2 separate regions of the Homo sapiens genome follow, and region 2 is linked to region 1. Evidence: fine-mapped expression QTL. A gene starts in region 1. The other region holds a variant in brackets. All regions are shown on one strand. Distances are from middle to middle. Region 1 holds the start of CD244 (CD244 molecule). Region 2 overlaps LY9 (lymphocyte antigen 9).

Region 1 (4,394 bases):
TTTTTTTGTGACAGAGTCTTGCTCTGTCTCCCAGGCTGGAGTGCAGAGGCACAATCTCAGCTCACTGCAACCTCTGCCTCCCAGGTTCAAAGGAGTCTCCTGCCTCAGCCTCCCGAGTAGCTGGGATTACAGGCACACACCACCACACCCGGCTAATTTTTGTATTTTTAGTAGAGATGAGGTTTCACCGTGTTGGCCAGGCTGATATCGAACCCCTGACCTCAAGTGATCCACCTGCCTTGGCCTCCCAAAGTGCTGGGATTATAGGCATGAGCCACTGCGATCAGCCTACAAATAGCAGATATTGTGTGATAGAGTTTGTCAGGGACCACAAGACAGACACACACTCAGTGGTACAGCTGCTCCGAGTTCTGTTTCCAGGGGATGATAGGTCATCCACATGCCTGGTGGGAAGGATGGAGCTGGTGTTGGGGTCAGGATTGGAGAGGCTGATTCCTAATTCACATTCATTAGTGGGTTCCAACAGCTGGATCTTGTTTTCCACCTGTCGTGTGAGGAAGTTTACCCTTCTTTGTTATATCATGTCTTGTGCACCACTTCTCAAGGTTAAGGACATGGCCAGATCAACTCTGAAGAAATTCCCCAGGGTTGAGGGCTGCCCCTTGGGAGCAGACAAAGGAGAGAAGAGATGATAACCATTAGACCCGCTGGAAAAAGCTATTCAGAGCTTAAAAAAATGAAAACAAAACCACAAAAACCTCATCTATGTCCAGTGTTTTTTGTGTGCATATTCTGGAGTATCATTTTTAATTTGATCCTGAAAACTGCCTTGTGAAGGTGGGGAGGATGTATTGTTGACCCTACAGGCTCAGACAGCAACAAGGCCAGAATCACATAGGTTGTAAGTTGCTGAATGGGAGCTGCAAGTCCAAGTCTTTGACTCTAAATCCAGCGCTCTGTCCAGAGCCCCGCTGCTGCCTCTGTTGGCAGCTGAAGCTGTCAGTCTGCTGCCCCCTGCCCAGTTCAGACAGGGTGGCTGGAAATGGACCAAAGGATGGAAAAAGAGAATAAGAGCGGACTTGAAGGGAACTGAAAGTATTTGTTAAGGGGAAAGCAGAAGGAAGAAAGAAAGAGGCATGAACCCTGGGGCCTGGCCTTGAAGCACAGTGTTCCAGGGGAGGGGGGATGCCGCTGTCCCCACCCCTCCATGGGGGCCTAAGCAGATCCAGAGCTGCCTGGCCTTCCTGGAGGGTGGCGTCCAAGCATGGATGGGAAGGCAGCAAAAATAGGCCCATGTCACTTCTGGGAGAAGACAAAAGAGGGAAGAGAGGACTACTATAGAAAAGTAGAAAAAGAGGAAGGGAGGGAATCTAGGCATACAGATCGGAAATGTGGAGCAAAACAAAATTTTTTTTTTTTTTTTTGAGACACAGTGTCGCTCTGTCACCTAGGCTGGAGTGCAGTGGCGTGATCTTGGCTTACCGCAACCTCCACCTCCTTTGCTCAAGTGATTCCCCTGCCTCAGCCTCCCAAGTAGCTTGGATTACAGGTGCACGCCACCCAGCCTGGCTAATTTCTCTATTTTTAGTAGAGGTGGGGATTCACCATATTGGCCAGGCTAGTCTCGATCTCCTGATCTCAAGTGATCTGCCTGCTTCAGTCTCCCAAAGTGTTGGGATTACAGGCGTGAGCCACTGTGCCCCGTGTGAAACAAATTCTTATGAAACAAATTTAATTTACATGTGCTTAAACTTTGGTGTCAACTTGCATGGAATCCCCAGGCTTGCTAGATTTTTCTAGTGCCTCCAGCCCTTAGGTCTCTTCCTATGTTCTCTCAGCTACTCCTCCTTTCCTTCAACACTGTTAGCCGCTTATCCAGGGCCCTACGTTTCAGCCCACTCCTCCTCCAGCCCCTCTCCACTCCACCTCCACAATGTCTGTTGGAATGGAACAGTTGGGGATACTGGCTGTTTGGCCCCCATGGGGGTCTCTCCATATAGGATTCAGAGAATTGGAAGACTTCTTGGGCTGAAGCAGAGAACGGGATGCAATTTTGAAACTGGCTTTGTGAGTCACTGTGAACTTCAAGCACCCTCCCACTTGAGGTAAGCTTCACCAGTTTGGCTTGTGGGAACTGTCAGACCAGCTCCAGGCGCTGGGGCTTTCTCAGTGGCCTTGTCAGCTCACAGCAGGCGTTAACAGCCTCTAATTGAGGAAACTGTGGCTGGACAGGTTGCAAGGCAGTTCTGCTCCCCATCGTCCTCTTGCTGACTGGGGACTGCTGAGCCCGTGCACGGCAGAGAGTCTGGTGGGGTGGAGGGGCTGGCCTGGCCCCTCTGTCCTGTGGAAATGCTGGGGCAAGTGGTCACCCTCATACTCCTCCTGCTCCTCAAGGTGTATCAGGGCAAAGGTAAGGAGGTCCTACCTGGCGTGGGGCGAGGGAGGGACTAGGAGCTGTGCCCCTCAGGGAGATCAGAGCCAGAGCCTCTGCTTGTGCCACATACACAGTCATCTGGAACTTGACTCCGAGCAGCTCCTGACAGCTCTGACAGTCTAAATCAGACAGGACAGGCTGGCAGTGCACTGGGAGGTCTGTGAGAGGGGTATCTGGCCCTGCCACCAGCAATCCAGGAAGTCTTGGGTGAGGAGATTCCTTCCCACTGGCTTCAATTTACCCTTCCGTGTAGTGGAGAGAGAAGCCTCCTTCCAGCCGCCTGTAAAGATGATGAAAATTGCATCCTCCAATTGTGGCATGAGAGAAGAGAAGCAGTCCCAAGGAAGTGGGTGGTTCTCGAGCTCAGAGACAGATGGATGGACCCCTGAGGCAGGAAAGCTGAGCCCAGGGAGGGGAGGGCGAGGCCAGCAGCCAGGAAGAAGCTGGAAGGCATGGTCCCTCATCTCCCCGGCTTCTTCAGCCATCCAGATGCCACAGGAGCCTGGAAATTATTAGGGACATGCAGGGTTGGGGCAGAAGAAGGAGACAATATGAGGAAGCTCCACAGCAAACCTAAAGCTGTCAGCCAGGCATGGAGCCATCTAACATTTACTCCTGGGGATCCCAGCTGAGGGCTGCTCCCCTCTTTCTCCAGTTCTGGGGTCCAGGATGCTCTGAAACCTGGATCCCGCATTTAATTTAATTGAATTAATTTATTTATTTCATTTTTAATTTTTATTTATTTATTTATTTTTTGAGACAGAGTCTCCTTCTGTCACCCAGGCTGGAGTGCAGTGGCGTGATCTTGGCTCACTACAAACTCTGCCTCCCGGGTTCAAGTGATTCTCATGCCTCAGCCTCCCGAGTAGGTGAAATTACAGACGTGCGCCACCATGCTTGGCTAATTTTTGTATTTTTAGTAGAGACCAGGTTTCACCATGTTGGCCAGGCTGGTCTTGAACTCCTGACCTCAGGTGATCTGCCCACCTTGGTCTCCCCCATCCAAAGTGCTGGGATTACAGGTGTGAGCCACCATGCCCAGCCAGGGTTCTGCATTTTAGATCAGTGACTCTGCAGGGGCTTCACGGAGGTGGAGAGCGTGGAATTAGAGGAGGGTACACTCTGGGCACAAAGAGGGGAAACTGAGGCATAGTGTTGTGTGGGTTCAGGGCCAGGTAGAAGCCCCATATGCAATAAAGTCCCATGCCCAGGTACTCAATTCAGTTACCGAGTCCCTGAGCATTCTTGTGTCCTTCAGGAAGACACAGTCAAGGCTCAGGTGGACTCAACATTTGTAAGGATGCAGGCAGCCTAGGGCAGAGCATGATGAGGAACAGGGAGCAGGGAGGGAGGAGTGGAGCCTGCAGCTCTTGTGGGTGGGTTGGGGGGCCTAGTGGCCCAGGATTCTAGGCAGGAGAGCTAGGTTGGAACCTGGTCTAAGGATCCTTGAATGCAGCTCAGACAGCCGAAGGAGGACTGATGGGATTGGTGCCTGGCTGTGGGGATGAGAGTAACAGAGAAGCTGAGGTTATGACCCTGAGGTCATGAGCCTGTGTGACAGAGGGCAATGCTCCCTCCACCCCCATTCCCAGGGCTTCAGCACCATAGCTGGGCTTGGCTATGCCGGCCCTTGCACGGTGAAGCTGGTGAGTGACTTGTTAGGCACAGGGAGGGATGGACTTGGGTCTTCCTGAGCTGCTTCCTCCTCCATCCTGTGTCTATAGGGCAGGCCTGGCATAAGTTGACTGAAGCTGCTCTATTTCTTTAATTTTTAAGCTTTTTAGTTTGAAATAATTGTGAAGTTCCAGGGAAGCTGCAAGAATAGTTCAAACGATTCTTGAATTTCTTTCATCTAGATTCACCAATTAACATTTTATCACATTTACTTTATTTCTCTTTCTCTAGCTGTATGTATATGTGTGTATAAATGTACAATAATTTTTGCTGAACCACTTGAGAACAAGTTGTGACATTATGTCCCCTTACTCCTAAATATTTT
Region 2 (4,394 bases), 38 kb after region 1:
GGTTCCAAGGCAAAGTCTCTAGCTGGCTAAGCATTAGACTACTGTCTAGAAGTCAGGATGAGATGGATGATGGTTGAACCAAACCACACATCCCAACAAGTGTTTACTGAGCAAATTCTATCCATCTTTTAAGGCCCAACCCAAATTCCTTTTTCATGATGTGTTTCCTCTTTACCACAGTGCAGTGATATCCCCCACCTTCAGCTTCTGAAAAACCCTTAGGAACTGTGCATACAATTTATTAAGTAGTCAAGTAACTTTAACCCATTTACGCAGGAGGTTGCAATTTTTTGAATTTGTGCATGAGTGAAAAATCAGACCCTGGTGATGATCTTGAGCAGTAGAATATAAATAACTCCTACACGCTTAGTGTTCCAATAATGGAACACCAGGCATAAGTGCAACATATGTTTGAACTGCATGGCCACTTATATGCAGATTTTTTTTCAATAAACATCACACTGAGTGTGCCTGCCTCTCCTGCCTCCCCTTTTACCTCCTCTACCTCTTTTACCTCTACCACTCTTGAAAGAACAAGACCAACCCTTCCTCTTCCTCCTCAGCCTACTCAATGTGAAGGTGAGGATGAAGACCTTTACAATGATCCAATTCCACTTAATGAATAGTATACATATTTTATCTTCCTTATGATTTTCTTAATAATTTCTTTTCTCTAGCTTACTTTATTGTAAGAATACAGTATATAATACACGTAACATGCAAAATATGTGTTAATCAAATGTTTATGTTTTTGGTAAGGCTTCTGGTCAACAGTAGGCTGTTAGTAGTTAAGTTCTGGAGAGTCAAAGTTATAGAATGATTTTTGATTGCATGGAGTGGGGTGGGGTTGGCACTCCTAAACCCCTGAATTGTTCAAGGGTCAACTGTAGTCTTTTCTTTTTTTTTGAGATGGAGTTTTGCTCTTGTTGCCCAGGCTGGAGTGCAATGGTGTGATCTCTGCTCACCGCAACCTCCACCTCCTGGGTTCAAGCAATTCTCCTGCCTCAGCCTCCTGAGTAGCTGGGATTACAGGTGCCTGCCACCACATTCAGGTAATTTTAATATTTTTAGTAGAGATGGGGTTTTACCATGTTGGCCAGGCTGGTCTTGAACTCCTGACCTCAGGTGATCCACCTGCCTCGGCCTCCCAAAGTGCTGGGATTACAGGCATGAGCCACCACGCCCAGCCGAGAGTTTTTTAAAAAATATTTTTTTGAATATGTTATAGGGAGGGAATTTGGGGGAGATTTGAAAGCAAAAGTATGAATGGACACGATGTTTTCAGGAAAGTGAAAATGAAATGGACAGCCAGATCAAGGTGAATTATTTAAGATTACTCAGGATGATCTTAAAACGCCTCATGGTTCTTAATACTGGAACTTCCAAGTACTATCTTTGTCACCTTAGGCAAAATTAACTTCCTTGAATCTGTTTCTTTGGCTATAAAATGTGGATGACAACACTTTTCTAGAAGTATTACAAAGATCAAAGAAGAATGTGTATCAAGGTATTGTAACTGCAAAACTTCATATAAAAGCAAGTCAGTTATTATTATCATTATGATTATTTAATGATAAATTCTACCTGTAAGGGATTTTTTTTTTTTTTTAAGACATGGTCTCACTCTGTCACCCAGGCTAGATTTCAGTGGCATGATCTTGGCTCACTGCAGCCTTGAACTCCCCGGCTCAAGCGGTCCTCCCACTTAAGTGTCCTAAGTAGCTGGGACTACAGGTGTGTACCACCACAGGCCTGGGTAATTTTTTTTGAACTTTTTATAAAGACAGGGTTTCACCATGTTGCCCAGGCTGGGAATTTTTTTTTTTTTTTTTTTTTTGAGATGGAGTCTTGTTCTGTTGCCCAGGCTGGAGTGCAGTGGCACGA[A/T]CTTGGCTCACTGTAAGCTCTGCCTCCTGGGTTCACGCCATTCTCCTGCCTCAGTCTCTGAGTAGTTGGAACTACAGGCGCCTGCCACCACGCCTGGCTAATTTTTTTTGTATTTTTAGTAGAGACGGAGTTTCACCATGTTAGCCAGGATGGTCTCCATCTCCTGACCTTGTGATCCACCCGCCTTGGCCTCCCAAAGTGCTGGGATTACAGGTATGAGCCACCGCGCCCGGCTGGGATTTTTTTAAACACTAGAATAAAACTAATGTACTGTAGGTGGTGGTGTATTTTCCAAAAATTCTTGTTGTTAAATTGTTAGCTAATTTTCAATGGTTTTGAGAAGTTGTCATTTAGGTAGATTAGGATTAGGGTTAGAGATAGATTTAAAAAGCTATAAAGACCCTACCTTGTTTGAGTGTATAAGCTGTCATTCAGGTCAGTGTTAAAAATAACCAACATAAGATATTATTAAATCAATTAGAAATGTTCAGCCTTTGGTCACACAGATGTCAGGAATATTTGTTTATGCATCTCTGTTGACCATGGAATGTATCTGAGGGGTGCATAGTGGGTAGAATTTAAGATCCTTAGCCATGGGAATCTCGGATTTTCAGTTCAAAGGGTCTAAGGAATAGTTCCTCACTCTGTGGGCCTTGGGATACAGAGAATGTAGTTCTCACCACCTGAGGTTTCCGTATGGAGCAGTAGATTGTGGCTGAGCTCTCTTCCTTCTGAGAAACTGGGGTCTTTCCCTGTAACACACCAACAGCAGATGAGCCCTAGTGACCACATGAGAGCTTTTCAGTTTTACCCTCAACCCTTGAGGAGAGGGGATACCCCCTGGCTTCCCATCTCACACACAGGGTGGGAGCTGCCTTAGTGCAGTGGGGACGGTGCCTCTGGTTCTCCAACACCTTCCTTATTAGTGGCCCAAGAATGAGAGCTGAGGGACAAGTCCCTCGTTCCACAGGATCCCAAGGTTTGGTAAACATGGACACAGCCATGAGTCCCTGCCCGTATGCCCCTAGTCCTGTTTCCAGGCCCCAGCCCCCAGTTTGGAGGAACTAGTCATCCAGGATCTCAGATGCCGCTAGACATGGGAGGAGGAGGAAGGTGTATTGATCAGAAGGGCTCACCTGTAAGTTGAACACTTGTGCATACATGGTGTTCTCTCCAACCACAGACTCAACTTCCGTGACATATGGAGTGACGGGATCATAGTCTGCTTGGCCCTCAGGGGCTGGGTCATGTCCAGCGCCCTCCTGAGTGACCTGGTCAAATACCTCATATCTTCCACTGATGGGCTTGTGCACCTCAGGCCTGTCCTCATCCTCCTCAGTTGTGAGGTTGCTGTCAGAGCTGCTGTCTGAGGTGGGTGTAGGCTGTTGCCTGGCAGGCCTGAGGGGAGTGTCCAGCTTCTCATATCCTTGGGAGAGCACAGAGTATAGCGTGTGGCCAGCTGTGGGTTCTGGAACACATTGTGCAGGGCTGATAAAAGTATGCCAACCCCACCTCTCTTCTTGCTTTGCTGCAAGGCCCCAGCCTGCTCTGATGCCTGCATTAGATGAGGCCTAGAGAACCGAAGGAGATTGTTTTGTCCTGTCTTCCCTCAGGGGGTCCATTCCACTCTCCCTTCCTCCTTCCTTTCAAGCATTCATTTATTCATTCATTTGATAAATATTAAATATGACATGTGATAGACTTTAGCAACTCTCTGGCCCTGTGGGATAAACCATGCCAAGCATCATTGCAGGTACTCTGGGGAAACACAAAGGTAAATTAGACCTGGCCCTGGAGGAGCACCCTGTCTAGCTGGGGAGTCAGGTGCATGTGTAAATCAGTAATGTAAGGCCAGCTTTGCCAAGTATCCTATGGAACGTATGAGGAAAGTGCAGAGTTGAGAGGAGATGACTCTGGTTAGAGAAGCAGAGAGGAACTCATGAAAGTGGCAGAATTGAGGTGGGTCTTGAATAGGGATTCAATATTTCGATGAGTGGAAGGGTATTCTAGGTGGAGGAGGGAACAGCATGATTAGAGGCAGGTGTAAAGCCTGGAGCAGTCTCTTTTTCCGAAAGGATGATATTAAAAATACTTAACAATTGCAATGGTCAGGCCTTAGGCAATCAGCATGGGCACCTGTGAACAGTGGCATGGTGGATGCGCTGTGAGGGCCGGTGTGGCCCACTGGGTGGATATGCTGTGAACGCTGTCATGGCACACTGGGTGGATGTCAACCCTGCCTGTGGGGCACATGAAGTAGCCCATTTTGATACAGGAGTTAAGAAGAAATTACTTAGGCAGATAGTAAGGATATGGGAGTCCTTGGTCAGGCTTTTCTTTTTATTGAAAAGCAGCCCCAAATCATTTTCTAACAAAGAGCAGCCTGCAAGCTGGGAGCTTGCATGGGTGAACACCAGCAGGGACTAAGGAATAGACATTTTCAAAATGGCGGCTCCATCTTCCCTTCCCTGCCAGCCACTGTATTGAAAGGAGCAGATAAGATGGTGCCA

What was found. PIP is the estimated chance that this variant, and not a neighbour inherited with it, causes the effect.
Region 2: its variant is the best candidate, but not a certain one, in a credible set for the expression of CD244 in whole blood (TOPMed, PIP 0.65).

What each region holds. Positions count from the first base shown.
Region 1 is chr1:160,860,594-160,864,987 of GRCh38, reverse strand. It overlaps CD244 (CD244 molecule), which reads left to right and starts at 2,101. Exons shown (of 9, transcript NM_016382.4): 1 at 2,101-2,371. The coding sequence starts at 2,311. RefSeq lists an enhancer at 2,236-2,285.
Region 2 is chr1:160,822,423-160,826,816 of GRCh38, reverse strand. It overlaps LY9 (lymphocyte antigen 9), which reads right to left. Exons shown (of 10, transcript NM_002348.4): 8 at 3,021-3,352; 9 at 2,568-2,636. Among named protein-coding and RNA genes, the nearest start is that of LY9, 28 kb to the right of the region's middle. The variant A/T (reference allele first, on the strand shown) is at 1,885.